Linked DNA regions of Homo sapiens: regions 2 and 3 are each linked to region 1. Evidence: fine-mapped expression QTL. A gene starts in region 1. Each other region holds a variant in brackets. All regions are shown on one strand. Distances are from middle to middle. Region 1 holds the start of SKP2 (S-phase kinase associated protein 2). Region 2 overlaps NADK2 (NAD kinase 2, mitochondrial). Region 3 overlaps SKP2 (S-phase kinase associated protein 2).

Region 1 (10,984 bases):
CCAGATAAACGGATGAAGAGGATTTAGTTGCCAGATGTACGGCTGGACTGGGGCCTGCAGGGAGAAACTGCTTAGCAAAGAACCAACAAAAACTTGCAGCCCAGAACCAGTCATCAGATATCTATGTACAGCAGGTGTGGCCTGTTCTACCCTAATCCTGGCAAAGCTAGTAGCCACCTGTCCTGACAACTGCAGACAAAACTCCTTGGAATGACAATCCGGCTCCACTGGAGGCCCAGGCTTCCAAAGGCCCATTGGGAATCCTCTATACCAGCTGTCCCTCATCCTGCATCACTGATTTCACCCTTCCCCACTCCACACCAATTAAGCAATCTCTGTTGTAAGTCCACGTACATTGGTTTCCCTCTGTGCCTCTCCTTAGGTAATAAACATAAAAGTCACCATTCTTTCTCTCTCCCTTCAGATATATACTTTTGAAGTCAGCTTTAACCATCAAGACACTGATTACACCATTTTCAGAGCCCTCTCTTTCCTCAGAATCTCCTTTCTTGCTGAGTGGAAGGAGGAAGATCTTCCACATCCACCTGAATGGGAATCACAGCTCTTATTTTTTATTGTATTTTCTCCTCAACTTGACTTGCAAATTCCTGGGAAATAGCAAAGACTCCGGAAACTTCTGTCTTGTTCCCACAGTGCCTTGCTTAAAAAAAATTCTTTTTCACTTGTGGAAGGGCATATAGCAATCACACTCTATGTCAAAAGCTATCGGCACTGGACAGGTTAATAAAAATCTGTTCATCTTAGCAGGAAGTATCTTTCGCCATATTTGGTTGGTCAAGCACCAGATTGTTAGGGCTACATTCCAGACACAAAGAAGAGCGGTGAACATTAAATTTTGAAGAAAAAAAATTTTATACTAACAGGGTCAGAGTAACAATATTAAAAACAAAAGATAAAAGTCCACTAGCCTCCAAAATTGGTGTCAGGAATTTTGTTGGCTTATGTATTGTTACGTGTCAGTGGCATGCTAAGGGTTTTACGTCATTCTCATTTAATCTTCACGACGACCTGTGAAGTGGGTATTATTACAGCACTCCATTTCACAGATAAAGGAACTAAGGCAAAGAAAGCTCGAATAACTTTCCAAGGCTGATAAACGCAAGAATGAGGATTCAAACCCAGATCTGACTTCACTACAACCCTCTACTGCTTTTCTAACTAATCCAATTCCTGATGTATATTCCCAGACCATAAATTGGGCAAAGTTCTCTTTCCTAAAGAAAAGGCTGAAAACAAACGTATTTATTTTCTTAATTAAAAGTGGAATGCATCTCGAATCCGCATGTCTTCCTGCGCAGGGGCCATGCTAATCTTCTCTGTATTTCCAGTTTCAGTATATGTGCTGCCAAAGCGAGCAACCAACCAATCAACTAAACAACCAATCTATCAACCCTTCTGCAAAGGAAACCAGATGGGAGAATTTATGAATATACTTAAATTACCTTGGGTCTGCAAGACTTCATCTTTAAATGTTTAATCTGTTTCTTCTTCGCCATCATCCCCCACCTGATTTCAATTTAGACTCTGATCACCTCTTCCACAGATGATTTCAACAGCCTCCTAAATTCTGTTGACTTTAATGTGGGAATATATCCGGAATCTGACCACCCTCACCCCCAACAAGACTTCAAGCTTTGGCCAGGTGTGGTGGCTCATGCCTGTAATCCCAGCACTTTGGGAGGCCAAGGCTGGAGGATCGCCTGAGTCCAGGAGTTTGAGACCAGCCTGGGCAAGATGGTGAGAACGCCCCCGCAACCTCCATCTCTACAAAAAATAAAAAAATTGCTGGGCGTGGTGGTGCATGCCTGTAGTCTCAGTTACTTAGGAGGCTGAGGCAGGAGAATCGTTCGAATCCAGGTGAAGACAGTGAGCCAAGAGCAGGTCACTGCATTCCAGCCTGGGCAACAGAGCAAGACTCCGTCTTGAAAATATGAAATTTAAAAAAGACCCTAAGTTTCTACCCTTGATGCCCCTGCAGCTGAGTCTCAACACATCAGTGTGTCATTTTTAGAAGGTTAAATCAGGTCCCATCACAACTCTGCTCAACATTACCTCCAGCCTGATCTCCCCCGACTCTCCCTTTCGCTCATTCCACTCTTAGAATATGGCTTCCCTGTTCCTGGAACAAATACGTCACATTTATGCACCAGGGTCTTTGCAGTGGCTGTTCCTTCTGCTTGGAGCTCTTTTCTCCAAGATATTTGCATGGCACACTCCTTGCCTCCTTTATGTCTTTGCTTAAAGGTCACTGTCCAATTGAGGCTTTCTCTCAATACCTGGTTTAAAAGTGCACTCTATCTTCCCACCCCAAGACCTGCATTCCCTCTTGGCTTGTTCTATTTTTGTTTTTAGCCATAGCTCTTATCACCTTCTAACATACTATATAAAAATAGTTATTGTGTTTATTGTATTCTCTCACTAGAATGGATGCTCCCTGAGAGCAGAAATGTTTGTTGTGCCCACTCCTCTATCTCCAGCACCTGGAACACGGCCTAGCACATGGTATGTGCTCAGCAAATATTTGCTGTATTACTGTTTTAAATAGCTTACTAGTAAGAAAAACTGATAACCCCAGGTCAATGCCCTGTTTATCCTATGGCTTTTGCATACTCCAGGGTTCTGGTTCACTCTGGGAGGCACTCGTTCGCCTGCTTGAGGAACTAGGGGATGGGGAGCTATTAAGGAGGGAAGATACAGTAAGTTCTACATTTCAGTCAATCCATTCTAGTTCGGGGGATAGATCTGGGGAGAAGAAGGTTGGAATTATGAATCCACTCCAATAGTTCAGGCAAGAGACGACGAGAACTTGAGAAATAGTTACCAGAGAAGAGGGAAAGATGCGATGAATGACTGGATGTTGGGGGGCGGTGGGAAGCTGACTGACTCTCAGGTTTTCGGGTTGGGTGATTAAACAGATAGTGTCAGCAGTAATGGAGACAGAACATACCAGGAGAAGCCAATATGGGGGTGGGAGTGGGCCTGGGGAGATGTCTCCCCCACTTAGGTGAACGTTCACTTCGCAGTCCACTGATAAATAACTAAAGTGATTAAGGCAAAAAGATCACTCAGGGGTACAAAGCAAAAGGAATCCTACAAGAAGACCACTGTTTATGTTTCTGTTAAACGGTGAAACTGAGCTGGCCTTGAGGCAGGCAGATTCCCTTCTAAGGAAAAAGGCAGGAATGTCTTCTCATGGGTTAAAATTTTCAAGGTGATTATGCACCAGAACATACATATATATATATATATATATATATATATATCTACCAAGATTCCTGCATACTTGACGACTTGCCCTATTTTGTTGAAAAATAGCTTCAGAATTAGGCAATCTTAAAAGGAACCCATGCTAAAGATCTCTGAACAAAGGTTTCCCAACAACATAGCTAAATCCACCCTTTGCATAACTGACATTTTTACCCTCATGTCCTTACCTGGAAAGTTCTCTCGATTTAGCTTAGGCCTGCGGACAATCACAAAGTCTTTGTCACTCCCTTTGCTCTTCAGCCGTTTCCGTGGGGGGCTCTCCGGGTGGCCCAGGTTTGAGAGCAGTTCCTGGGGGATGTTCTCACTGTCGGGCTCCTCTTTCTCCAGGGCGGAGACCCCCATGCCTGACAGCAGTTCAGAAGTCTTGCTGGAATCCCATCCCCACGTGAAGCTGGTGGCAACGTTGCTACTCAGGTCTGGAATCTCCTGGAGGTGCTTCCTGCAGAAGTGCACAATACCCCCGGTTCCTTTCGAAAACACACCCATAAATAATTTCAAGGCAATTAAAGAAGCTGCAGTTTATGCATTGTAGGAAACCTTCACAGCAGCTAACAGAATCGCATTTTTTATGTGCCTGCGGCGAGTTACCAAGAAAACGAAGAAATGAAAAGAACAAATCGAGAAGGCTTTTTGACTTACGATCCTGCAGAAGGCCTCAAGAATTTCTCCCAGTGGAGGGAACAGACAAGGAGAGAGACAGGGCAATCATACACTGATTGAAAACGGTGGCAGAAAAGCCCAATTAGGGAAGCCAAATAAAACCACACGCTGATCCCCGCACTAAGGCATCCATCCATTCACACTTTCCCCAAGAAGGGGCTAAGCAACCATTCACTTAACAGCATTACTAACAATATTAGCCAGTAGCGATATTCGCGGCCTAAAAGAATTATTAAGAGGGTCCATTTCATGCTCTTCCCCTTTTTGCAATCCGTTTACCTGTGCATAGCGTCCGCAGGCCCGGGAGTTTAAAATACGTGCATTAACTGCAGAGCTGCTCGCCTCCCAGATTCCCGCTTTGGCGCGCGGCGGCTCCGAGCGTGCTGCTCGGGCCCCCAGCAGCCAGACCCGCTAAGCCTAGCAACGTTCCATCCCCACTGCGCGCGCAAGGCTCTACAGCCCGCTCTGCTTCGCGGCCGCACTGAGGCCCAAGGCCTGCTGGGAATTGTAGTTTCCGTCCCGCTTCGTAGTCCGACGGGCTCGCCCTTACTTCCTTCCCTTGCAGCTTTACCCGCCTTCGAGATACCCACAACCCCCCGCGGGAGCGGGACTGGTCGGCCCACGGGGTAGGCGGGGAGGCGGAAGCGGGCGGCGCTACGGCTGACTGGGAAATGTCAGCCGCTGGACTGTAGACGGATTTTCCTTTCTCGGGAGCCCGCAGGCCTTCTGGTGATCGCCAGCGCTGTCGTCTCTGAGCGTGGATCCCAGAACCTGGACAGCTGTGGCGGCCGCCGTTTCCCGGTCCCGTCCAGACGCTGTCTGGCGAGATCGGACGGTGAGCCTAAGGCGGAACGCGTGAGGCGCTTTTGAGTCTGGGGTCCGGGGCCGAGAGCAGGCGGAAAGAGAGGGGACCCGGCAGACCCCGAGTGGCCGCCGCTGCGGGGCCCAAGTCCTTGGCTGCTGAGTGGTGACAGTAGCCCAGCCCGCCGGCCAGGTGAGAGGCTGCGAACTGCTGGCGTCGCACCTGTTCGTCCTTTTGCCAGGAAGCTTCTTCCTCCGTCGGGGAGAAGGCGGCCCTAAGAATTGGGTCTGTGGACGGGATCCTTCCTTTATCTGTAAAATAACGCACAACAGCTAAACACGCCGTTGGAACGAGAGACAATGGTTTAATTTTAGGGGAGCCGGAGACCCCAGCGGGTCCTGTGTGGTGGGAAGGCTGCGCATGCCCTTGCAGCCTTGACAGGTCTCATAAATAGCAACATGGGAATAAATGAAAGGACTGTATTTTGCAACGAGCTTTACCCGTGCACGCAGGGGGCCTCCAGCAAAGCCATTTGGTTGCTTGCTGTCGCTCAGCTGGCTACGTGTGTTTGCGTCGCCGCCTAAAAGCGAGCTGCTTTCAGCCTATCTCTGCTGAGAAGAGTTTGGGGGCAGTAAGAGTAGGGAGCGTGACATATTCCAGGTACAATGACCATGCGAAATCCATTGGGCAAACTATACTACAACTGTGACCCCGGGAAAACAGTGGAAGAGGGAAGGGGGATGAATTCTAAGCCTCATAAAAATGAAGATTTATAAAGTTCATAAGGAAGCATAACAGCTTCATCGCATATTAGAATATTCAGTGATGCTGTATGACACACCCTCTGGTTTCCTTGAAAAAATGATTCGCTCTGTAGTGAAATTAAACCTCCCTTGTGCAGGTATATGCTTGTTTCAAGCTTGGTCCTTAGCTTGAAAAGTAACTGCCTCTTGAGGAAGGAATTCATGAACCTTTAGCTCGTTCTTGAAAGATGAGATTGGTGTAAAGAAGGGATCTGTTCACAACTTGGTTTTGATTGGAACTAGGTGCAGAATCCTAGGCTAAGCCGTTCATCAAACTAATGTTATATGGAAAGCATTTTAAAATGCAATATCCTGATGTTTTACAGAAAGTGACCTTTATGTTACTTTGGCTAAGGAGAAAGCATTTGCCTTTGTTTGAAGCTACGTCCTTTCCCTGAAGATTGCAACTCATAGGAGAAAATATTTTTGACACAAAAAATTATAGTTTCCTTCAGGAAAGGGAACAAAACAGAGAGAGCCTGTAAGCTAATGGAGGAGAAAGAATAAACAAAAATATTTAAGATGCCATAATGAGAATAAACAGTTTTGAGATGTAAAATAATTGGGAGAGCCCACTTCAGATATAGATCTCATAGATAGGAAGGTTTAATCGATGAGATGATTCTAAATTTAAAGATGAGAAATATCTTTGTTCAGTCTTGGTTTTACTAGGAGTTACCTGGGAACTAGAATACTTGCAACATCTGAATTAGTGAACACAAGATCCTCTCTAGGACTTCAGGGAGAGCCTGTCAGTTTTGAAATTCAGTTTGATAGTTTGCCCCGGTAACAGACATACTTCATCTTCCTAATATGGGAATAATTTTTTTTTGCCTTCCTTCTAATCATGACTATTGCCTTAATATAATAAATGCAAGTTTAAATTGGTACATTAGATTCTTTTTAACGTAAGGAATTGTGTCCATTGAAGACGAGATTAGTAGGTACATAGAGGTTGCTATCTGGTCATAAAGAACTGCATTGTGATTGCTACTGATGTATCTTATTTTTTCTGATTAATTTTATTTTTATTTTTTGAGAAGAAATTTCACTCTTATTGCCCAGGCTGGAGTGCAATGGCGCAATCTCGGCTCACCATAACCTCCACCTCCCATGTTCAAGCAATTCCCCTGCCTCAGCCTTCCTGAGTAGCTGGGATTACAGGCATGCGCCACCACGCCTGGCTAATTTTGTATTTTTAGTGGAGACGGGGTTTCTGCATGTTGGTCAGGCTGGTCTCGAACTCCCGACCTCAGATGATCCACCCACCTCAGCCTCCTAAAGTGCTGAGATTACAGGCGTGAGCCTCCGTGCCCAGCCGATTCTTACATCTCTTTAAAAGGAAGACGGTCCACCCTTCTTTGTTTCTCCATCCTGCTGTCTAGATGATGATAGGATTCCTGGAGTTCCAGCATCTGTCCTGGAACATAAGGATTAAAGCCACCTGCTAAGGATGTGGACTATAGAAGGGGCCTGGGCCTCTGATAATCTGCTAACTTGCCATAACCACCTATCTCAAGACTTACACGAGAAATAAATTCTGCATTGTATAAGTCTGTACTATATTGGACTTTTCTGTTATGTGTAGCCAAACTAATCTTGAATAATGTATTTCCAGAACTGATAGTCTCTGTGGTGGTGGCAGCTACCTGTTTACATAACCCTTATCACCCCCTAATGTATTTTTTTTAATTGCCTGTTTCTTCCCACTAGACTTTTTAAGGGCAGGGACTTTGCTTGGATTTTTCTATCTCCAGCCCCTTGAACAGAGCTCACCATATAGTAGGCGTTCAGTAAATATTTGCTAAATGAATGAATGGTGCTTGGAACTAAGTAGATCTTTAATTCATTGTAATTTAATGCTCTAAGATAGGCAGCTTGGGGCAAGAACAAACGGATTCTAATTTACTCTATGTTTTCCACTTTTCCCATGTAGAGTACAGTCATATATTACCCTTAAATCAAGTAATAGTAGTATAATCTGTAATGTAAAAAGTTTGCGTTAAATTCTTTATTAAACATGACTAAGCATTCTGTCCTGATATATCTAAAAGAAATGGGAGAAAGTTTCTAATTTGTTCCCTGTGAAGACTGAACAAAATAAATCATTAAGCAATTTAAATTGCATTAAGAAACTATGTCTAGATTAGAGAAGAGACATGTAATTATGATCCAGGCTCTGTAGTAAAGATGCCTCTATTTGAATCCCAGCTTTACCATTCACCAGCTCTGTTAACTTGGACAAGTTACTTAACCTCTCTGCACTGTTTTTTTTCTGTTAAGCAAGGAAACGAACAGCCCTTTCTTACTAGGTTGTGAGGTCTAATTTGATAAAGCTTGGCAGGTACTAGTATTAATACAATGCTTAAAATTTAGTGAACACATTCTAAATGTTAGCTATTCGTTTTTTGAAATTATTTTATTATTAGGAAGGACTTTACAGATTATTCTCTATCAAAATGTCTTGCAATTTCTATGTATGAAATCTTTAAGAATTCAGTAAAATTTTAGTTCTTTTTTCTTATATGCTTACATGATTGCTACCTCTTCTCTTCATGCCTTGCAAAAGGTAAAGCAGGACAGTATGCCACTGTCCTCAGGGGCTTGTCACATTTTGGAATTCAGGTTACCTGGTTGGTTCGCCAACTCAGCTCTTAGGTACCTTTAAAAAATATTATGATGGTTTTTTTTTTTTTTTCATTTTTCGAGTGGGAGTAATAGTCTCTTGCAGTAGTCTGTGTCCTAAACTGAACTCTCTCATACCTGAAATCTTTAAATATGTGAATAACGATTATGTTTGGAAGATTTAAATTTAATTATTGGTGGAAAATTGTTGACTTAATCATTCACTTCTAATTCTGGTTCTTTTGATTTTTCATAATTAGGATTTTGAGTTGTCTCCTGGTTTTTATTATTTTGCACATATCTGAGTAAAAATACAGATATGTGAAGTTAGATAAAATTTCCAATTGGAACCTAATGATTCATCAGACTCAGATATTTAAGTTAACAGTATTTGAGAATGATGAATCATTAGGTTCCGGTCAGAAATTTTTCATTCAGTTTCAGAATCTTTGGTTTTGACAAAATTGTTGTCAGTGTTTTGTTTGTGTTCTGATCACTTGGTACCCATTCTCTCTCTCTCTCTCTCAAAACATTTGGAATTCTTCAAACTACAAAATTATCTTAACCTCTGAAGTTCCATCAAAGGGTATTTGGCCTGAAAAACTATTATCAGCCGTAAAGTACTCAGGAAACAGTACTTTAGTCAGTAACATTAGTCAGTAACATTAACACGCTAATTGTGAAACCATTATAAAGGCATTTGAAAGTAATATTGAATAATATTTTGATGATTGGAAAAAGATTGAATTGGATTTTAAATGTTTAAGACTTTCAGAACTGGTGTTTTGAAGGGTACGATATGCCCACACATCGGGCACTAAAATCTGGTAGTTTTAATGAATTGCCATTTTGATTTCGAGTATAATCAAGTTTTGCTACTGTGGTGCTTAATCACATGGAACTGAATTTTTATTTACCTCCCCATTTTAGTATCACCATCATCATCATTATCATCATTATCATCCCCTTTCTTCTCCTTCTTCCCTAAACCTTGCAACTCATCACTTGAATGTTGGCACAAGGTTAAAGATATGGACTTTGAAACTATTATTTTCTCAAGTTAGGAAAACCCCAATTTTTATCTCCAGTTTCATGGGATCACTGGTCCTAATCTGTGTCATAATAAGGCAATATAGTTCGGCCTCAACAGAAATAGATGGTATGGTAAACAGAATAATAAACCCCTAAGAATGTCTATGCTCTTATCTCTGGAACCAGTAAAAATGATGAAATTATTCAGGCAGGCCCAGTGTAATCAGATAAGCCCTGTAAAACAAATTTCAAGTGTGAGAAGAATTTGACAAGCCATTGCTGCTTCTAAAATATTCAGGACCACAGACACACACACACACACACACACACACACACACACACACACTCACACACACACACACACACGCAGAGAGAGAAGTGAGTGAGGAGATAGATATGTTAATTTGTTTGACTATGGTGATTATTTCACTGTATATGTACAGTATATCAAAACATCACTGTTGTGCACTTTAAATATATACAATTTAAAAACATATACAGAGCCACATGCAAAGACTGGGGAGAGGCCTCTAGAGCTAAGGTTAAATGCCAGCTGTCAGTTTGCAGGGGAACAGGGATCTCAGTCCTATAACCATAAAGAACTGAGTTTTGGCTTGGCTAGGTGGATCATGCCTGAAATCTCAGTGCTTTGGGAGGCCAAGGTGAGAGGATCACTTGCAGCCAGGTATTTGAGTCCAGCCTGGGCAACATAGCAAGACCCTGTCTCTACAAAAAAAATTTTTTTTTAAAATTAGCCAGGCGTGGTGGTGTGCACCTATAGTCCTAGCTATCTGGAAGCTGAGGTGGGAGGATCAGTTGAGCCCAGGAGCTCAAGGTTATGTTGAGCCATGATCATGCCACTGCCCTCCGGCCTGGGCGACAGTGTGAGACCCTGCCAGTAGCCTGAATGAGATTAGAAATGGATTCTTCTTCAGAGAAAGATGCAAACCTGCTGACACCTTGATTTTAAACTTGTGTGACCCTAAGCAGAGAACTAAGTTGAACTATGCTATGTTTGAACTTCTGACCTACAGAAGCTATAAGATATTAATACTAAATGGATGTTGTTTAAAGTCACTAAGTTTGTAGTAATTTGTTACAGCAGTGGTAAGATACTAACACATGAAGTGTGGGAAGGTATGTAACCAAATCATTTATTACTAGAATAAAGGATCCATAATTCTATTTCTTCATCTACAACCCTTTAAAGTGCTGACTATGAATCAGACTGAAAAACAGAGTGCCATAGTAAAAAAATTAATAGCTAGTGTCAGGTTTATAACTGATTTTGTTGTTTGCTTATTATGCCCATAATCTTACCACCTAAAGACTATTGATGTTTTAATATATTTCATTGTTACCTTACTCTTTTTTATGCTTATGTAAAAATATGTGCCAAATTTTCAATTGCTGTTAGGGTAATTTTCTGATGTTATTAAATAATCTTAACAAACATTATTTCTTATACTACAATAATATTTCATCATTTGGCTCTGCCATGCTTTATTTAGCATTTCTTTGGTAATCTCTAATATTTAGTCTTTTTTTTGTATGATTGTCATATTCCTTGCACTGGACAATTTCAGGTCTAGTTCAAGTCATAAAAGGATTTTCAGTTAATTATGTTATATTTAAACTCACATCAATTGGGTTTTTTTAAAGAAAAAAAACCCTAGATCTCGAAGATGGTTTTGTTATCAGCACATTCTGCATTGAGCTTTCAGCCAACTACTTAATCTATGCTTAGCTTAAAAATAAGATTTGGCTGGGCGCT
Region 2 (10,984 bases), 82 kb before region 1:
TTGGATTTCCCTTTTGTTTTCTGAAGATTTTGTGGCTTAGGTTGTAGCACTTGGGCAGATAATACTTTTGCCACAGGGTATGCAATAAGCGTACCATGGTATACTTTTGTCAGGTGGTATACTTTTGCTACATTGTATGCAATAAGTATATTACATACAATATGATTGTTAATCAAATTAAAGAGCATGATTTGGAGTACTGCCAGAGCTTTCTAACTGAATCCTTGCTCCTCTCAAATCTTCTAGACACAGTTACCAGAGTGTCTATCTAAAGTGAACATCTGGCCCTTTCTCTCTTTTGCTTGGAACTCCACAGAAGCTCCCTGTACCCTTTAGTCACCAAGAGTACTTGTTAAAATGCAGACACCTGAACCTTAGCCCCGCAAGACTCTGACTCAGTTTGTGGAGAATTCCCAGACTTTGGTTTTATGAAGCACACACCTGAAATTAATGACTCCGGCTGAATTCCAGGGATGTGTTTTATCCCTGGTTGGCATGTGGTCCCCAGTTAAACTGAGAAACACAGTTGTGGGCTCAAGTTCATGATCTTTAGAATGGCAGATAAGTCCCTTCATGAACTGGCTATCTCTTGAGCTTCACTTCTGATCACTTCTTGTCTTAAATTTCATATTCTAGCAATTTCAAACTGTGTTAATTTCCATTAGATGTTGTACTGATTTAGTTTAATTTATGGATCAGTAGCACATAAAATGATTCAAAATATAAAAGATACAAAATATTATACAAAGAAGTCTTTCTGTTACTTGTCATTTGTCATTCAGTTTTGTCCCTGGAAGTAACTGTTATCAATTTCTTGTGTTTTCTTCCAGAAGCAACCTATACCTACAAATCAGCACAGTGAAATATTCTTTTTCTTTGCCTCATCTCTTTTTATTCAATGATAATATACTATTTAAGCTATTATGTGCCTTTTTTTTTAGCCTAACAGCATTTGTGGAGATTGTCATAAAGAACATTCCCATTCTTTTTAAAAATAGTATGTATGTTACTTTATTTTGTGTCCTAATTTATCTTCTGCTATTAAACACATTCTGAAATGAATAACATTTGTGTTTATATGCATGTAAATCAAGCTCTAAGACAAATACCTAAAGTTGAAATTGTTGAGTCAAAAGCCTTGTGCATATAAAGTTTTAACAGATTTGGCCAAATTGCTTCCCTTAGAGATTATACAGATTTTTACTTTCACCAGCCCTGTATAAGGGGACTTATTTTTCCATACATAGTTCATTAAATTGTTGGGTCTTTGCCAACCTGGTGGGTGAAAGATGGTATTTCAGGGTGGTTGAATTTGCATCTCTCAGTGTCTATGTGTCTACTTTTGTAGCCTCCTTTGATTTGAATGCTCTTCTTCCTCTATCCAATTCCTGTTTTTTTTTTTTTTTTTTTTGAGGTTAAGCTCAGACATTACTCTCTCAGGATGCCATCCTTGGTAACCTTGCTGTGCCTCTGCCTTTCTCTGGCTACCAAGATTGTGTTAGGCATTCTTCACTTCATAATACTTATCTGTGATTATTTTCTTTTCTAAACTGTAAACTCTTTGAGGGCAAGAATTGCATCTCCTTTATCGTCCTCTCCACCCCCATACTTCCACTAAAAAAAGTAGTAAAATGTTTCTGATGTTCTGTTAAGATCATTTTTAGGTCTTTTCTCCTTGAGCCTGGGGACCAGCTTCCTTCTAGTCCAGGGCCTTATTACCAGCTGTCTGTCTTTCCAGATGTTAGCTGCTGAAAGCTTAAGTCAGAGTTTAAGCCTTAAGCTTTGGATTCTTTGATAGAGGTTTCGGGTTAAATGTCTTTGAAAAACATGAGCCCAAGCAAAAGATGATTTTTATTTGACTATGGGATTCTTTTTGGTGGGAGGGAGCAGAAAATGTTTTAAATTCTGTGGAACACAACTTGGAAAACAGAGGTTTAAGGTATACTCCCTTTCTATAAATACTTGCAGTTAAATAGGAAACTCACAAAGATGTAGAAGAATTAAATATCACAGTAGCTGAAGTGTCACCATTAGAGAATCATTGACCAACATGCTTCACAGCCCTGATGTTCAGCCTTCACTGTATATAAGCATTATCTAGGGGGAGGTTTTAAAAACTACAAATATGTGACCAGCCATGAGATTGCAAATAACAAAATTTTTCACTGTTATCATTTTACTATATTTTTAATTATATAAATTAACTTCTAATAGTTGTGTTTGATGCACATTAATCTCTTCTCAACTAGTAAAGTGTAAATTGACTTTATTTGTCACTATCAGTGAACTTTGTAATGTACAACGGAAATATATAATTTCAAAATATCAGCAAGTGTGCCAGTTATTTCACGCTTTAGGAAAATTTATTTTTTATATATATATATATATATATTTTCTTCATAATAAACCACTAGATATGGATTATGCAGGAAAATAGACCAATCTTTGTAAAACATTTGCATTGAAGGAGGGTTCATCCAATTGGCTCTCCTCTTCCTAAATGAAAGGTGGTAGAATTAGGTCCTGATAAAGAACAGAATAGTTGTTGAGTTATGTAACTTAGTCATCACAATTGAGGCTTAGTGGCCTAATGAGTATTCACAGTTCTCAAGCAGGAGTAAGATATATGGCTAATGTAGGAATGTTAGTAGTATGTGGCTGCATGGATATAACAGAGTAGACAAATCCTGCTTTAACAGCAGAAGATCAGAGTTTTGATCCTGAAAGCACAATCTGATGTCTTTGTAATCTTGAGCAAGTAACCTAACCTCTCTGAATCAGTCTCTTTGGCTTTGAAATATTTATAGTAATACCTGCTTTTCCTTTCTCACATAATTTTTAGAAAGGTGAAATAATTTACAATTTACATAATTTAACTTAAAGCTGCATAATCTAATTCCAGTTTAGCCACAATAATGATCATTATGTAAATGTTACATATATTTAAATTATGTACCTGAAATAGCATTGATTTGGTTAACTCCAAAGTAGATTCCTTTACTAAGATAGATCACTTAAGTGAACTAAAAATATGTTGATTTTTAACTCTGCTTGCGTAGTGTTTTTTTAACCAAAATTTTAAAGAAGTTATCATTTCAAAGTAATAGAGAAAATAATTACAAAAATTATGATCTGCATTAAAAGTACTTGCTACAGTGTCACTATTGGCAATATCCAGGAAGTCTGTTAGTTAATTTGTTTAAAGTGTCACTTTTAAATATTTGTTCACAAAACCGTTTTTTGAGCCCCTGCTAACTGCTAGGCATCCTGCTGGATCCTGGAGAATCAAAGATTAGTAAACAGTTTCCAAATACATGGGAAACATCTATTACATTATATTATAAATATTTATAAGTGATCCATGGGAGTACAGGGAAGGGAGAGAACAATTTGGGAAGGGTAGGGATGAAGGGGAGAAAAGACTCCCCCACTCCCAACTTTTGAGTAGATTTTCAGTGATCTTTTTAAAGTTTAGATTTTCAGTTATGAGATATTTCAAACATATAGAAATGTTTCAGAAAGTAACAAGACACCTGTGTATTCAGCTACCTAGACTTAACAGCTATTAATATTCTGCCATATGTGCTTCAGAATTTTAAAAATGGAAATATTACAACTAAAGCCTTATGCATCCAACTTTTCCCACTCCCTACCTCACCAGAGGTAACCACTGCCTTGACGTTAAGTGTATTGTTCTCATACATATGCTTTTACATTTATTAATATGACAGTATCCATAAACAAGTGTAACATCATGTGTGTCTTTTAAAAGTTAGTCAATGATAATTCTGTTCTTTAGAATATGTGCCTATTCTTTAGAAATTTGCTTCTCTTATTTACTATTGGTTTCAAAACTTATCTGTGTAGATACGTGTTAATTCATTTTTTTTTTTTTTTTTTTTTTTTGAGACGGAGTTTCGCTCTGTCGCCCAGGCTGGAGTGCAGTGGCGCGATCTCGACTCACTGCAAGCTCCGCCTCCCGGGTTCACGCCATTCTCCTGCCTCAGCCTCCCGTGTAGCTGGGACTACAGGCGCGCGCCACCATGCCCGGCTAATTTTTGTATTTTTAGTAGAGACGGGGTTTCACCGTGTTAGCCAGGATGGTCTCGATCTCCTGACCTCGTGATCCGCCCGTCTCGGCCTCCCAAAGTGCTGGGATTACAGGCGTGAGCCACCGCGCCTGGCCCATTAATACATTTTAACTGCTGTGCAATATTTCATTGTTTGGATAATTAGGTTAGTCACAGTTTTTCCATTATTAAAAAAATATTGTAATTAGAAGTACAAATAATTTTTTCCATAAGCATTTAGTGGGTTCCTGAACAGCACTTAGTAGACTTTAACATTTTTGCTAATATGAAGGTGAAATGGTATCTTTTAATTTCAGGATGTTTGAATTAAATATTGAAAAATACAGAAGAATTTTTATGTGTGAAGGAGAGAACAGCAAGACTTGCGTGAAGTTCATCTTGTAGCCAACCAAAAGAACTCAAAACTGACTGTGATCCATAATCAGAGATCTCTTACATTGTGACTCAGTACATAAATTTGAAATAAAAGATAACAGGGAAGAATTTAGCCTTGTATGTTTTATAAAAACATCTTTAAATAAAAGATAACAGGGAAGAATTAAAAATATATTTTAAATAAAAGATAACAGGGAAGAATTTAGCCTAGTATGTTTTATTTTCTAGTTAATGATAATGCTGGCTGTGATCGTTAAATTGTGACCAGCTTATAATGCACTTTAAGACAATTTGAAAATCATAGTATATTGAGGCCAAACAGGTAGAGTGGACCTTATAAAGGTGGTAAGTCTCTTGCCAAGGAGTTAGCTTTATCTCCTAGTGGTTTTCAGACTCTTTATGGTAGAACACAACCCTTGCTCAGCCTGTCTTTCTCCATAGGAATTGGGTGATGAGGGTCAATTTTTCTGAGATTTCAGCATTTTGGACGTTGTATGAAAACTGGCTTTTGTTTTCATACGACGCCCAAAATGTGGTGGTGTTAAGGTTAGTTAGGGGATGGGAATTAGTCAAAGACTTTTGAATAAGGAACTAGTTTAGAAAATCTGGAGGCAAGCTTTTGCATTAGACCAGATAAGAGTTGGTGTTGTCCAGAACTCAAGCAGTGGCAGCATGAACTTAAAGTACATAGATTGTCAAAACACTTCACAGATGTAATTATTTGACTTCACTACTGACTGGCTGTGGACATTGAGTGTGAGGAAGAATTAAAGGTGACACGGATTTATTAAGTTGCTCATGTAAATGATGCTATTGTTAACTGATAAATTGGACTCAGAAGAGCAGATTTGAGGGGGAGTATATAATCAAGTTTTGATATTTTTGGAGAGAGGTACCTGAACTATTTGTGGATGGATGTAAAGGTAGCATTTGAAAATTCAAGGCTGTAGATCAAGAGACGTGGACTAACAGTATAGATTTCAAGGTTACTGGGATATACTTGGTAGGTGAGTTTCCTGGAGTGGGGCGATAACTCAGAGAAAATGAAGTGAGAGCAGATAAGAAAACCAAAGTTGGAACCTCAAGCAATATCAAGGGAGGAGGTCAACAGAATTAACAGAGGAATGCAGAAATAGAGAACGTTGGGGAAAATAAAGGTGAGAGCCTGGGAGAAAGTAAGTGGAATAGAGATGATCTAAGATAAATACCAAATATATGTGAAGAAG[TCTTTAGG/G]GTTCAGTGCACTAGGTCTGATCATGTTAGGTGAATGGTTGAGTATCTAGGTGTTGATTAGGTGCTGTTAACCTTTTTAAGGCAATTTTGAGTAACACTTAGAGTACCATTTAGTTAAATGTGTATGCTTTTAAGGGTGCCTAAATTATGCCTAGTGGATTGACATACTGAACTGTCATTGTCTCAAAAGTTTGTGCATTTATTATGTGTTAAATTTAAAAAAACTTAACTCCTTCCCTTATTAAGCTATCATAGAAATTACATAGAGTACAAAATAGCAATACTCAACTGACTGGTAAAACAAGTCTTAAAAATTTGTAATTGCAATAAATTTAGTTTTAGATAAGTAAAACCATCTGTGATAATTTAATAAAGGTGTTATAAACCATTTAGGTAATAGCATAACTATCACATCTGGATCTTAAAGTGTGCTAAATCTATCCATTCAAAATCTTGCTTTTTTCCTTACATGTTGTGCTTTATTTTAATATCAGAGCTGTGTGGGGAGACATGATCTTGGCTTTCGGAGATTCTGTAGGAGAAACTCTTGCTTATATTGAAATGTGTCTGTCTGTCTGTAGATCTCATGGAGTCACCTGCTTTTTCCAAGTGTCCTGGTGAATCTTTATTTATTTATTTATTTATTTTAATGGAGAGAAGAATTAACAGGTTTTTGGGGAAAATATTAAAGACTGTTACTAATAATGTTGTGTAACATTGCAGAGAATTGGGAATGTGTTCTAAATTTCAGTAATTTCTCTAACCTTTTAATGGTAAGACATTGTCTAAGAAATCATGTGTTCTTATTTTTGTCTGATTAAAGGAGTGTTTTAAGATATTTGAAGTCATGTTATTTTCAAAGGTTTAGCAAGAAATTCTTACCAGCTTTTGCATATGCCTTTTAAACAAATATAATTATTGGACTTCAGTACTCACTGGCTGTGGCGATTGAATGTAAGGGAAGAATTAAAGCCAGTTGAATAGTGATTTAAGCCTTTCTAATTGATGCTGTTTATTAAGTGATTTTCTTATTTTTTATCTGTCTCATTTAGCCAGTTCATGTTAATAAAGCTTAATAGCCCAACCAGCGAGGCCTTTAAAGAAAATAAGAACTTACATTCTCTAAATGAATGTTGAGGATGACTTATTAGAAAGTTAGTTCACAAGAAGAAATTTGAGTGGGAATAAGAATTTATGAACTGACATTTCTGCTTCAATGTTAAGTATTCTGATGCTGCCTGAACTTTGTATTTAGATTTGGAATTTTAGGAATTTTATTATTGTTAGCAATCATAGAAAACTTGAAGTTTTTTGTTAGTTCTCCAAAACTTTTTCTCCCACAAATTCAGACCCTTTCGCCATCTCAAGCCAAAGTTCCCTAACAGTCAACGCCATGTATCTTATTTTCCTGGGGCTTGCCGAGAGCCAGGAAGTAAGCATAAAAGTTTCTGAACTACCAGACTAGCATTTACAGGGCTTACACAGTAAGGTTTATGTGCTTTTTTCCTGGGTACATGTTCCATATTGTCCAAACCAAAATTTGGAACATAAGGTAAAAATCCTGGATAGGGAATTGAAGTATGAGGGCCAGCTACCCTTGAAGTTTTATTTAAAGTAGAAGTGGTAAATTAGATATAACTGTTGTAATAGGCTTATTGTGCATTTGAATTAGTTATCATTGTCTTTGGCAGTTTGCAGTGCCTTGTTTAATACATTTGATTAAGTTCAACTAGTAGTTAAATGAACACAGTAGTAGGCAGTCAAATATTTAGATGAATTTTTTTTAGAGCTTAACTTCTAGCTGTGTAAAGTGTTCACGCCTAAAGTGGAATTGTAAGAGATAATTATAACAAAATAATATACTATAGTAACTAATCTAACTCTCCTCAGTTCTAAGGGTTGGTTTGCACACTGTTGTCACTTTCTGGGTTATCTTCTGTAGCATCTGCTTCTGCACTATTCTTGCTTTTCTGGAAAATGTATGCATGAGTTCATTCAACAAATACTTAGCTAGTACTTAGGCCCTGAGGAACAATGGCAAACAAGATAAGTAAGATCACTGTTCTCCCAGCACTTATATTCTAGTAAGGAGATTCAAAGGGATTTTTTAAAAATACCAGGAAATTTTAGGTGTGGTAAATGCAAAAAAGGGAATTAACAGGTGTTGGGATGGAGTAATTGGCAGTGGTGGCTGTTGCAGCTGCAAGGGCAGCACTAGCAGCAGCTGTTTCAGCAGTCCTGGCACCCCAGGGTTAAAAAGAGTCAGAGTTAGGTGGAGGGATGGAAAGCATTCCAGCAAGTACAAAGGAAGAGCTTGGTGAAAATAGACCAAAGAGATTAGAGTGTTGGGAATGGGGAGGAAAAATGAGGTAGGAGAAAGGAGCAGAAGTCAGGTGGCATAAGCCTGAGAGTTGGTAGGAAGAAAGTGCCATTTGTAGAAGGGCATTAAGCTGAGGAAGAGACATGCTGTGGTCTCTCTGGTTTCTGTGTTCGGAATAATCTATAGGGTGCCAAGAGTGGAAGTAGGGAACCCCTGTCAGAGGCTTGTGCAGTGGTTCACGTGTGAGATCATGAGTGGTAGAGGGGAAGAAGAGAAAAGTGCTTGGATCAAATATAAGATTTAGTAATTGGATGTGGAAATAAGCAAAAAAGGAGGCATCGGCTGTGACTCTAGACTGTTGGCTTAAGCCATAGGTGGGGAATTCTTGGGCCAGAAAATCAAGGGCTAGATATTGAACATGCTAGATACTGAATGAATAATAATAGCATTTCAAGTATTCAGTATCTAGCATGTTCAATATCTAGCCCTCTAAATTTGAGGTGCCTGTTAGATAGCCAAAGAAAGATGTCAAATAAGCAGTTGAATAAATGTATTTGAGGCTCTAAAGATAGGCCGGGTTGGGAGATAGCAGTTGGGAATCATCAGCATCAGCATATAGATCTCTTTTAAAGCCGTGAAACTAGAGATTGCCAAGGGAGAGGGTAGTGGTCCATACTCACTGAGAGGTGGTTAGTGCCGTTTTAGTCAATCTGTAGCTGGGTAATGATAGTGGTAATCTGAATATTCATGCTCTGTTGGTCCATATTAAGAAATTCTACTCTAAAATAGTTTTTCAAACCTTACTGACTCATGTTGATTTGTTGATTAAATTAAATGAAGGATTTTTCTAGTTATTATCATAGTCAGTGCTTTCCTTTAAAAAATTATTGACATTGGTTGCTTAGTCTAAGTTTAATGAGGCTTTTGGCTAGGCATTAAATTTTGGCACAGGCTGTCTAATCTATTATAGTATATCTTGGTAAGTTAACATCTATTAATTAATTTTCACAATAGCCAAATGCTTCCTCAGCTTCTCTTTTGTGAGAACATAACGAAAATTACAAAGCAAGGACAAAACTATTTAAAAACTCTTAACCCAGTATTCGTAGGCAAAAGATGGGGAAGGTAGGTATCAAAATATTAACACTAATGATTTTGAGCCATAAGATTATATTTGATTTCAATTTTCTTTAAATATGCATTTTCCATATTGTTAGTGTTTTCTTTATAACCTTTAAAAAGTAAAATATGTATTAAAATGCTGTCTAAAAATTAGTTTTACTTTATAGTTCAGTAAGTAATGATTTAAAACAAAATATTTGAGATTGTATATTAGGCTGGGTGTGATGGCTCACACCTGTAACCCCAGCTTTTTTGGAAGCAAGGTGTGTGGATTGCTTAAGCCCAGGAGTTCGAGACTAGCCTGGGCAACATGGTAAAACCCCATTTCTACCAAAAAAAAAAATAAAATAAATTAGCTGGTTGTGGTGGTGTGCACTTGTAGTCCCAGCTGCCTGGGAGGCTGAGGTGGGAGGGCGGCTTGAGTCCGGGAGGCAGAGGTTGCAGTAAGCTGAGATCACACTACCACACCCCGGCCTGGGCAACAGAGCCAGACCCCGTCTCAAAAAAAAAAAAAATCATGTCTAGACAGGTATTTGAAAGACTGATTTTGTTACATAAAGAGGAAAGGTATAAGCTGGGCACAGTGACACGTGCCTATAATCTCATCTACTTGGTAAACGGAGGCAGGAGAATCATTAGAGCCTAGGAGTCCAAGACCAGCCTGAGCAACATAGCAAGACAGCATCTCAAGAACAAAAAAAAGAAAAGAAAAAGGGAAAGGAAAGGTATAAAGGAATTCGGAGGAGCAAAGAAAGTACAAATAACACACTTTTGAATTCTAGCATTCACTCTAGTGGACAAATTTCCTACTTGGTGATTAAATGGGTGTTCACTAAGGATATTTCTGAACTTTTTTCTCTACATTTTACTTTATGGATTATTCATAAGAAACATAGTTAAAAAAATTTTAATGGTAAGATAGTTATAAAATGTTACTCCAACTAGGAAAAATAATTTTTGAAGGATATATGTATATATAAGTTATCCTTTCTAAGGGAGCTAGTCAGCCCTTTGTTTAGATTTCGTAAGGTAAATTCCAAATAGAGTTTATAAATCTGAGAACAAGAGAGAAGCAAATCCAAGTGGAACAAAGGTCATCTAACCGCCTCTACAAGTATTAGTTTATCTTTGGTCATCAAGTAGCCATATGCAGTGTGTTAAAAAGTCATCAAGGCTGAGGCAGGAGAATGGCATGAACCAGGGAGGCGGAGCTTGCAGTGAGCCGAGATCACACCACTGCACTCCAGCCTGGGCAACAGAGCGAGACTCCATCTCAAAAAAAAAAAAAAAGTCATAAAAAAAATAAAAAACTTAAGCTGTAAAACATAAGATTTTGAGATCCTGGTGACTATATGATTCAGAAAACATAATGCTGTATTTGGTATTAAAGCCAAATTATAATTTTCTGATATCAGGCTTTCTAGTTCAATTTGTACTTGTAGGTTTCACAGGTAGTTATTAAAATATATTTTCAAAAAATTATATTTTATACGGGGCTTTTAAAAATCATAATATTAGAACATCATGTGTAATATATATTAGTAAAACAACGTTTCTTTTGTTTTGATATAGCTTGCATTGAAAGGCTCTAGTTACAGTGGACTTCTTGAACGACATCATATTCACACCAAAAATGTAGAACATATTATAGATAGTTTACGGTAAGTCTATGGGATTGGGTCTTGGGTTGGATTTTATATTCAGGACTTCCAGTTTTTATTTTGTACTAGCAGCCCATTCTTAGATTTTTAGTGATGATTGTTATTATAAAATCATTTTCAGAAAATTATATCAAGGTTAATGGATCTGATTTTATAGCATCTTTAAAGAAAAATTTATTGTT
Region 3 (10,984 bases), 30 kb before region 1:
TTCACAATTGCTTCAAAGAGAATAAAATACCTAGGAATCCAACTTACAAGGGATGGGAAGGACCTCTTCAAGGAGAGTTACAAACCACTGCTCAACAAAATAAAAGAGGACACAAACAAATGGGAGAACATTCCATGCTCATGGATAGGAAGAATCAATATCGTGAAAATGGCCATACTGCCTAAGGTAATTTATAGATTTAATGCCATCCCCATCAAGCTACCAATGACTTTTTTCACAGAATTGCAAAAAACTACTTTAAAGTTCATATGGAACCAAAAAAGAGCCCGTATTGCCAAGACAATCCTAAGCAAAAAGAACAAAGCTGGAGGCATCATGCTACCTGACTTCAAACTATCCTACAAGGCTACAGTAACCAAAACAGCATGGTACTGGTACCAAAACAGAGACATAGATCAATGGAACAGAACGGAGCCCTCAGAAATAATACCACACATGTACAACCATCTGATCTTTGACAAACCTGACAAAAATAAGAAATGGGGAAATGATTCCCTATTTAATAAATGGTGCTGGGAAAACTGGCTAGCCATATGTAGAAAGCTGAAACTGGATCCCTTCCTTACACCTTATACAAATATTAATTCAAGATGGATTAAAGACTTAGACCTAAAACCATAAAAACCCTAGAAGAAAACCTAGGCAATACCATTCAGGACATAGGCATGGGCAAGGACTTCATGTCTAAAACACCAAAAGCAATGACAACAAAAGCTAAAATTGACAAATGGGATCTTATTAAACTAAAGAGCTTCTGCACAGCAAAAGAAACTACCATCAGAGTGAACAGGCAACCTACACTATGGGAGAAAATTTTTGCAATCTACTCATCTGACAAACGGCTAATATCCAGAATCTACAAAGAACTCAAACAAATTTACAAGAAAAAAACCACCCCATCAAAAAGTGGGCAAAGGATATGAACAGACACTTCTGAAAAGAAGACATTTATGCAGCCAAGAGACACATGAAAAAATGGTCATCATCACTGGCCATCAGAGAAATGCAAATCAAAACCACAATGAGATACCATCTCACACCAGTTAGAATGGCGATCATTAAAAAGTCAGGAAACAACAGATACTGGAGAGGATGTGGAGATATAGGATCACTTTTATACTGTTGGTGGGACTGTAAACTGGTACAACCATTGTGGAAGACAGTGTGGTGATTCCTCAAGGATCTAGAACTAGAAATACCATTTGACCCAGCCATCCCATTACTGGGTATATACCCAAAGGAGTATAAATCATGTTGCTATAAAGACACATGCAAACGTATGTTTATTGCAACACTATTCACAATAGCAAAGACTTGGAACCAACCCAAATGTCCATCAATGATAGACTGGATCAAGAAAATGTGGCACATATACACCATGGAACACTATGCAGCCATAAAAAATGATGAGTTCATGTCCTTTGTAGGGACATGGATGAAGCTGGAAACCATCATTCTCAGCAAACTACCGTAAGGACAAAAAAACCAAACACCACATGTTCTCACTCATAGGTGGGAATTGAACAACGAGAACACCTGGACACAGGAAGGGGAACATCACACACCAGGACGTGTCATGGGGTGGGGGCAGAGGGGAGGGATAGCATTAGGAGATATACCTAATGTAAATGACAAGTTAATGGGTGCAGCACACCAACATGGCACATGTATACATATGTAACAAACCTGCACGTTGTGCACATGTACCCTAGAACTTAAAGTATAATTTAAAAAAAAAGATAACAAGACTGTATTAGCCCCTTTTATAAAGGCATTATAAACTTTTTTTTTTAATGTGACAAGCATATGAAGTAGATGGGTCAAAAAGGACCATCTCAGGGCTCTGTTTTGAAGAGTCTTATTTAGAGGTATCTAAGCCAAATGGCATACCACACTAAATGCTTTCAAATTTTAACCACAGCACTTAAAAAAAGAGAAAGAAAAAAGGAATACAACTTAGTTTAAGCACTCATTTTTATAAAAATGTGTTTTATTGTTTTAAAACAAGTCTATAAAAGTAGAAATCACATACAAAAATACAGATTACTCTGACATGTTGGCAAAATAGCTTATGGCTGGACTTGAGTTTGGAAGTTCTGTATGTTTGAGGGCATCCGATGTCAGAGTCCAACCGGATCCTAACCCCAGCTCTTGTCACTAATCTGTAAACAATAATTTCAAGTAGTATTTAGCACTTTTTAACTATTAAGAAATTGAAGCATCATCATTTCCTGTGCAACCCAACTTTAAAATCTTCCTTAGGTCTAAGCAGATAAAGGCACTTCATAGTATGTTTCTAACATTAACAATTTTTGATTTAAAAAAAAAAAGTTAATATAAATGACTGGTGTTAGCTTTTTTTGTTGTTACATTTTGAACATACGAACAAGTCATCAATTTAAACTAGTTTTTGTGATTTTTAAGAAGTAGAATTTGGCTGGGCGCAGTTGCTCATGCCTGTAATCCCAGCACTTTGGGAGGCCAAGACGGGCGGATCATGAGGTCAGGAGATTGAGACCATCCTGGCTAACATGGTGAAACCCCGTCTCTACTAAAAATACAAAAAAATTAGCCGGGCGTGGTGGTGGGCGCCTGTAGTCCCAGCTAGTCGGGAGGCTGAGGCAGGAGAATGACGTGAACCTGGGAGGCGGAGCTTGCAGTGAGCCGAGATCGCACCACTGCACTCCGGCCTTGGTGACAGAGCGAGACTCCGTCTCAAAAAAAAAAAAAAAAAATAGAAGTAGAATTTAATCTTTTCACTTCTCTGTACCAGTTTAAAAAAATATATATCACTGATGGTATCAAAAGGTCCCACATCTGGATTTTAACTCTTATGTAGGTATAAGTAGTGCTTACTACTGAAACTGCATGGAAGATATACCTGCTTCTACTGTATATTTCTGATTGAAGAGAACATGCAGTTCCTCTTAGGGAACTGTAGGTCTGATAACCTTATATATGGATAGTTTCAAACAATTATTGCTGAGAGATCATTTAAAAAAAAAATACAATTTAAAATACTTGATTCCAGAGTAATATAAAAGTAACCTTAAGAACCTCAGCGCTAAAGGAAAACAGCAGGCAACTTCAGAATTCTCCCATCCAAATTTTCAAGAATAGAGAGTGGATTAATACCACCTTTCTAAAACAAAGCAAGTCATTTTAAAAGCTAAAGGACCCATGTTAACATAATTTGATTATCAAGTTAGAAAACCACAATTATATTTCTCATCTAATTTAGATTCTGGAAACACAGTAACTTAATGAACATTACAGGATACTTCAGATTAACCTGTCATAGAAAACTGTCTGCTGGGCCTTCAAATCCTATATTGATTCTATATCTCTGGGTTTTGTAATGTTTGGTCTTTTGTTAAGTTTTAAGGTGAATTACATGGGGTTACTTATTTCTATTAACCTAATTTCAAATCTAAAGGCAAAATTCAAATACATTTTTCTCTTTCCTATTCCTAGAAAAGATGGCCTCAGACGCTACTATCCTATGATTCTCTTTTTGTTCAGCTCATAATACAAATAGCTTATTGTTCTTCTAAGCTGTCTTATAAAGCAATACTATAAAATTAAATAGATAAAAGTTATATGGGCTATGAAGATTGTTTGCTGGTGGTAATTTTTAAGCTTGATTCTGAATAGACTTAGTAAGAAGGGCACTTGGAAGAGGTGGCTCAAATTTTGCTCTTTAAGGTATCTTGAAATTATAGGCTCACTCTCCTAAAATTTCAAAAGGCCTACAACTTTGGCTCTTAAGAGCAAAGCAGTGATAGAAGCTTTTAGAATCATTTCAAAAAGCAAGATTTCATAGTTTTCCCTCTCAAATGGCTCCCTAGTATACTTGCAGAATGAAGGCAAAGGGAAAACCAAGAATAAAACTAGCTAAGTACTCCAGCAATTGGGCTTCCTGCCTATTTTCCCTGTTCTAAAGAAGAGACACCATCCTGCAATAAATACTTCATAGACAACTGGGCTTTTGCAGTGTCAGTCGGCATTTGATGCCCCATATCTCCTGGTTCTTTTTGTTGCCAATAGTTGGCCTGGCAATGGTGGTGAAATGGGAGCAATTAATCTGTAGATGAGGAAGGGCTTCCTTTAACAGTTGAAGGGTACCATCTGGCACGATTCCAAAAACTTGTAGTGTTTTTAGTGTGGGAATTTCTCCAAGTTCACTGGAAAGGAAGAAAAAGACTTTCAGAATAGCAGTATCTATGGAAACTGTTTGACTAGAGTTATATGACCCAAATTTTACAATTTGTGTCATCTACAAAATGCAGTCTGAAAGTGTAATTTACAATAAATGATTTGAGAAAATAGCAAATTAAACTGGAAAGCACAGACCATATAGCTTGAGCAACATGTCATTAGGAAACACACTGCTGCATTTTATTGAATGAGGTTCCTAATAACCTTAGAAACTCAGATTTATTTAAGAATCCAACCATATTTGCTTCCTTTCTCCAGTTGTGATTTATACAGTGATCTGAATGGGGTTACTGTGTTATGAGAAGAAACTAGCAAGTGAGTGATGGTAAAAGCAAATGTTTTACTGCGGCACCAGTTGGAACCACCACAGGTTACATGCAAATTAAGGATATGAACTTGACCTTTATTTGAACTAGGCTCATCTCTTAAAGGGAGATGCTGTCAGGACTGATGAACTTCTTAATAATGGTTCATAGTCAACAAGTCCATTATGTGTGATGAAAACTACCACTGACTTCCCTAAGATATTTTAGATAGGGTTATACAGTTGGGTACAGGTAGAGACAATGGGTGAAAAATCACACCCTTTATAGGAGGTAATAGCCATCTTACCTCCCTACGTATTACCATTTTTTTTCTGCATAGATAAGCCAGTCCCTTTAGGTATTTCACATTAGATGAAATTCAACCCTGTTAACAGTGAAATTCTGTTTCACAAATTCTGTTTCTCAAATTCTGTTTCACAAATTCTGTTTTTCCAAAGTAAATACTGTTTGGTGTTGGTAATGATTTTTTCCTTCTTAACTCAGATCTATGTGCCTAGAAATTCATCTCTCTCATCTCTGTTTGCTCAAGGTTGGGACATACAGTACAAAGTCTCAGGAAAGGGAACATTTATTTTGGAATTTCAACAAAATCCTACTACAGATCAATGAGCACATCAATTACCTAAAGTCAGAAACATCCTTTATATTTTCACATTGTCAATAATTATTTTTAAAAAGCCCCAAACTTTCCTTATAACTGTCTTTCTTCCTTCTAGCCTATTCTATATACCAATTTCCAAGGCATCCTCCTAAAGCCTAGCTCATGTTAGTCATTCATCTGCTCCAAAACCTTTGATGCTTCCCTTGTGTTTACAGAACCCAGGCTGTTCAGCTAGTCTGAAGACCTTCCGTGTTTAACCTGCTCTTCCAGTCTTCCCACTACTCCCCTAAATGTATTTATTCTACATTCTACAAGGTGTCTTAAACCCCACAAATGTTTAATATACGTTAGCTGAGTACAAGATGAAGGCTAATTTATAAAATAAAAGCATTATCCAAGGGAAATAAATATGCTTGTTCACAAGGGGACAATAAGATCTAAAGGTATATAACCAAAGAAAATCAGAAAGAACAAATTGCTGTCATTAAGTAAACTGCTTTCTGGAATGTAGAAACACTGTCGAAGTAAGATCACAGTA[T/C]ACACAGATACTTATACTTAATCACTTACGATGACAGCAATCCAGCTCCAACTTTGAATCCCTCATGTGAAACTTGGGAAACGTTGTAATTACTATGAGAATTCTGGTTCTGGTATATCCAAATTAGCCAAATTGTGAGCCATTCTGCACTGGAGAATATTTAAGGGAAGAAACTGTAGGTGGAGTAAGAAAAGGAGGAATGGCAGATGGCAGAGGAGGACATGTTCTTGCAACAGCATTGGGAAAGAGATTTGGTGAGGAAAGAAATTAAGAACAGACTCTCAGAACACACCCGGGTGTTATATATAAGGGGGTTATATAAGATAAGATGATGGATGAAGAACCAGTTCCAAGTCAAAAATCCAGAAAGTCTCTAAAATTTTAAGGAGACAAAAAAAAAAAAATGCCCCCGGTATGTGCATTACCTACAACTCAGAATAAAAAATTTGCAAGCATCTTTTAAAAACTACAATGGAAGAGACTGAAGAGCAAACTAAGGGATAGCAAATAGAAATAAGTAGTTCAAGAGCCATTATTTCTAATGTAAGAAATGTAAAATCACACCAATGTCTTATGTATATTGAATTTTAGAAAATAAAAGATATTTATGAACTCTTTCACAGGATTGCTCCTTACCTTATCTGTACAATAATCCTGTTTTCCTTATAAAATCTTAAATGCCTCAACTACAAATGCTCCTACCACAGAAGTCTTTTAGTCTTATCTTAGATTAGTTTACTACCTCCAGCTTGGGTTTCTTACTTGAATGAGAAATAGGGAAGAATTAGAAGGAAGTTTAGACATAGAGAAGAAGACCAATTAAGAAGTAAGGGAATAAATATAATGGGAATAGGTCCTGGGGAAGAAAACTTTATAGTTTCCCAAGTATTTTAAAATATTACAGAAGAAAGACATTCAAATTGTATTTTCCCACTTCCGAGAAATAAATAGCCTTAAGTTCTTTAGCATAGATGGCTCTCTTGAAATTATTATGGAAACATCCTGGAATTTTTATTATAAACCTCAAATATATCAGCTGCCAAAATGATTGAAATTAGAGTCATTCTAATTCTTATTTTATCTCAAGAAACTTTTAAGCATAAGGTACCAACAAACTCATCCTAAAGGATTCACAATGCAAATCAGTGTACTATTTACACAATACCTAAAGAAATATACTCTTTACCTTAATGTTCAAGGACAGGATCTTTCTTCTTCTCTATTCTAGTGGTCTGACTTGTAACTAAACTCCTAATGCCCCTGTTTGTCTTATTTCATAAGATTTGTACAAATAAGAAATAATAATACAGTGAAGGTTCACAACAGGTCTGTGACTTCAGACCCGTGTTTGTAACTATCAATTCACACTGCCTCCAAGTATTACCATGCCATTATTATGCAGGTATCGCAATTACTATTACTATTATCCCACTGGATAAAAATATTAAAATGAAGAGCTCACAGCCTTCCCCTCGCCTCTGCTTGAGAAAAAGCATTTGGGTCATTACCTGCTTAGCTTCTTTCTTTCTGCAGAGAAGGAACAAAAGCAAGACACATGGATAGATTCTCTTGAGAAAAGCAACCCAAAAAGAATGATCACCACACTCCCCAGGGGGCTGCACAGGCAAAGAAGCAGGAGGCCAGATGGCAAGGACAGGAAAGAATGGATGACAAAGAAGCCTTTTTGGGTAGACGCTAGAAGCTCCTAGGAGTTCTGGATGCTAGAAAATAGAGAGGGCAGGGATTTTAATAAGAGTTTCATGCGCATGAATTTAAACCCCAACATTTGAGAGCTGGGAAAGTAAATCCTGCCATCCTATTTTAGGCAGTCCTTTCCCAAATGAGATACCAGCTCAGACCCTGAACCCCAAGATTAATTTAAAAATGATTAATTAAAATGCGTAGCTGCCAGATTTCCTAACTCTACTAGTTAACTCTGTGTAGCTGAAGTATCTGATTTATTCATTAATACTTGAAACTAACTTAAAAGATTCAAACTATGATTCTGAGGACTAAAGTTCTTTGTTCAAATTCACCACCCTTCCTACCTAGGAGCTGGAAGCTAAATTAACTTTTAGTTCATGAGCTACATAAATGAGTCCAGCAGCCGCATTCAAGACATGTTGGGCACCTGATCAACTCTAAGATACTGACCTCTTGTGGTTTTTAATAAAATTGCTACACATGTACATTTGCCATTAGGGAGACTTTTCCAGCCCTTTGGAATGAAATGCAGAAAACCTTTTCAAACAAGATATGATTCCCAGGATGAGTTGGGTATGGTGTTTCCCAAAGGAAAGATGGACCAGGCTGCTGCTTTCTTGCACTCCCTTGATTCTGTGGAAGTTGCTGAGCAGGTAAAACTAACCCTTGTATAAACTATTAGATTAGATAGTGACTATTTTGCCTCTGTCCAGGAGACCTAGGATTTAGATCCAGGTCAGCCACCAACTCACCATCAGGTTTGAATAAGTCACTTCACTTCACTTTTTAGACCTTAACATGCCCCTGTTCAAAAACAGTATCAGACTTACAATACATACCATCTACAGGCTTATATCTTTCCAATTTCTTCACTATCCAGGACTTACATCACTAGAAGATACAGAACTTTAAGCCCAGATGAAAGTTTTGGAATCAACTGGAGTTAATCCGAAAAATTTGGAAAGAAAAAAAAAAAAAGACACTAACCCACATTGGGTCTGCCTTCCCAATTACACTTCAAGTTTCCTGGAGGAAAAGGTTATCTTCTGCTTCTCTGCTAAGTCTTCTCATAGATACTAAGACAGCAAGCTAGTAATTAAAACTGCTTACAGCTAAACAATAAATGTTTAGTGAACAATCTGGATCAACTCAATTTCACCAGTTTAAGCAATACTCTGCTGGTCTTTCATAGCCAGTCTGTGGTATACTTATTACTAATGTTTCGGTTTCATATGTCTATTAATAAAAATGGATTTTCACACCAAGGGGCATCTCTGTTGTTTCCTGCCTTCTATTAAGCATTAAAAACAAAACATACTTACAGTAAAGTTTCAGGTATTATATCATAGCACCGACTGAGTGATAGGTGTTGGAGGTAGTTGAGCTGGAAAAATTCCTGAAAGCAGTCATTCTTTAGCATGACACTATCACTGTTAAGAAGGCAGAAGAAAAGATATTGAAAATCACACATTGATCCTAGATAAAGAAGACAGAAATAACCTACTGTTTAGTTGCTTCAACATTATGATCCTTTCCCAATTTAATGAGAAATCAAGATTTTTCAACTTTTGATCTAAAATAAACAAATAAAAAAATACCTTAAGTCTAGATGGACAAGATTGGGGCATCTTCTAACTAAAGTAGAGAGATCTAGGAAAAGCAAAAAAACATGATGGTCACTATTAAATGAGGAACAAGACAAGGATATTTGTTATCACTACTATCATTGAACATCATGCTGGAAGTTCAGGGCAATGCAATTAGAACCACACACTATTAGAAAGAAAAAATGATCATCTTGGAACATAAAATTTTCTACCCAAAAAGCCCAAGAGAATCATCCGAAAAAGAAAACTGTGTAAAATGACAATCTTTAGCTTATCTATGTATCAGCAATAGCAGGCTGGAAAAATAATAGGGAAAAAAATCCCATTCACAAAAGCAAAAAGTAAAATTAAACACCAGTATATATAAGCAAACAATATATTACAAAGGTAGCACCTCAGATCAACAAGAGAAATAATGGATCAGTAAAAAGAAATATTGCCACTACAACTGGAAAAAAATATTTCTCCAACTCAAATAACATATTTAAATACATTCCACATAATAAGTTCTAAATACAAAAATAATATTTTTGTATTTAGGGTAATAATATATTAAATATTAAAAATTACTAAATAAATAATTCAGGGTAATTATTTAATTGAATCTTGGTATAAGGTATTTCTAAACATAAAAGAAAACATAGGGAACACATAAATTTACTACATAAAATTTTAAAACTACCATATTAAAACAATTTAAAAAGTATCAGAAAACTGGGAATGTTTTCAACATATATTAAACAGTGAGTTAATCTTATATAAAGAGAAAAAAGATAAATCAAAAATAGGCAATGAACATGAACAAATCTACATTGCAAAATACCAAGATAATAAAAAGGAGCAAGAAATACCAAATAAAATTAGAAATATTTCTTCTCAGCCATCAAGTGAAAAAAAATTCTATTATAAAGTAGGTCTACCATAAAGTAGGTCTTCCATGTACCACAGGTAGATATTTAATTTTATTTGCAGGCTTTCAGGAGCCTGAACCCTGCGTTTTTTGGATAGTGAACTGATTCCTGCTTTTTTTGGATAGTGAACTGATTTTCTTTTTTTTTTAAAGAATTCAGAGAATTATACAGTTTACTTTTGGCCCAGTAATTCCACTTTTAGAAAAATATAGATGTGTATGAATATATTCAATGTGGCAACAGTTATATTAGCCCCTCCTCCAGTTAGTTTAATATGTTAACCTCATCCATTCCGTGAAATACACTGCTAATCATTATGAAAACGCTTTCTGATAACATTTCATACATTTAAAAAAATACTAGGATAGCTTGTAAACAAAATATATACAATGCGTTATAATTTCAACTTGGTCAAAACACACTCAAACTCACATTTACACACAAACACATACACAGAAAGAAAGAGAGAAGAAAAAAAAAAGGCTGCAAGGAAATACATCCAAAATGTTAACTGCAGTATTCAAGGGTGTTTGGATTACAGGCAACTTTTCAGAATTTGGAAGAAAGTCATGTAAGCTACTTGGCAATCAGAAAATGAATCAATAAATGTTACTTATTTAGAACAACAGGCAAACTTCATTAACATTTGAGGGTTTTTTCGTCTCACAAGTATATCCCCTCTCCTAAATTCTGGACTTGCATTTTCAACTGCCTCCTCAACATACCGTTTGGATATGAGATAGGCCTCTAAATTTATGTCTAAAATCAAATACTCAATTTCTCCCCCAAATTTCCTCCTTCCCTAAACTCTTTCCCATCTCAGCAAGTGATAATTTCACGAATCCAGTGGCTTCAGCCAAAACCCTTGAAATCATAGTGGACTATTTTTCTCACATCCCACGTTCATTGTGTCACCAAATCTCATGATGTTGGTTTTTAAAATGTGCCCAAATCTGATCATTTCTTACCACCTTAAGTGTCACCAGCCTAGTCTGCTAACTGGTCTCCCTGCTTCATACTTCCCCGCTACAGCCTTTTCTCAACACAGCACTAGCGTG

What was found.
Region 2: its variant is fine-mapped to the expression of SKP2 in blood mononuclear cells (TOPMed, PIP 0.93).
Region 3: its variant is fine-mapped to the expression of SKP2 in whole blood (TOPMed, PIP above 0.99).

Annotation. Positions count from the first base shown.
Region 1 is chr5:36,145,514-36,156,497 of GRCh38, reverse strand. It overlaps SKP2 (S-phase kinase associated protein 2), which reads right to left and starts at 4,387. Exons shown (of 10, transcript NM_005983.4): 1 at 4,228-4,387; 2 at 3,456-3,727. The coding sequence starts at 4,235. It overlaps LMBRD2 (LMBR1 domain containing 2), which reads left to right and starts at 4,611. Exons shown (of 18, transcript NM_001007527.2): 1 at 4,611-4,942. MIR580 (microRNA 580) reads left to right here and starts at 8,510; the gene lies at 8,510-8,606. It also overlaps the pseudogene RNU6-1305P. RefSeq lists enhancers at 4,081-4,270, 4,344-5,327 and silencers at 4,541-4,680, 5,281-5,340.
Region 2 is chr5:36,227,295-36,238,278 of GRCh38, reverse strand. NADK2 (NAD kinase 2, mitochondrial) reads left to right here. Exons shown (of 12, transcript NM_001085411.3): 2 at 10,714-10,802. Among named protein-coding and RNA genes, the nearest start is that of NADK2, 9.1 kb to the left of the region's middle. The variant TCTTTAGG/G (reference allele first, on the strand shown) is at 5,693.
Region 3 is chr5:36,175,039-36,186,022 of GRCh38, reverse strand. SKP2 (S-phase kinase associated protein 2) reads right to left here. Exons shown (of 10, transcript NM_005983.4): 8 at 9,007-9,058; 9 at 8,731-8,838; 10 at 1,704-4,205. The coding sequence ends at 3,992. Among named protein-coding and RNA genes, the nearest start is that of SKP2, 28 kb to the right of the region's middle. The variant T/C (reference allele first, on the strand shown) is at 5,705.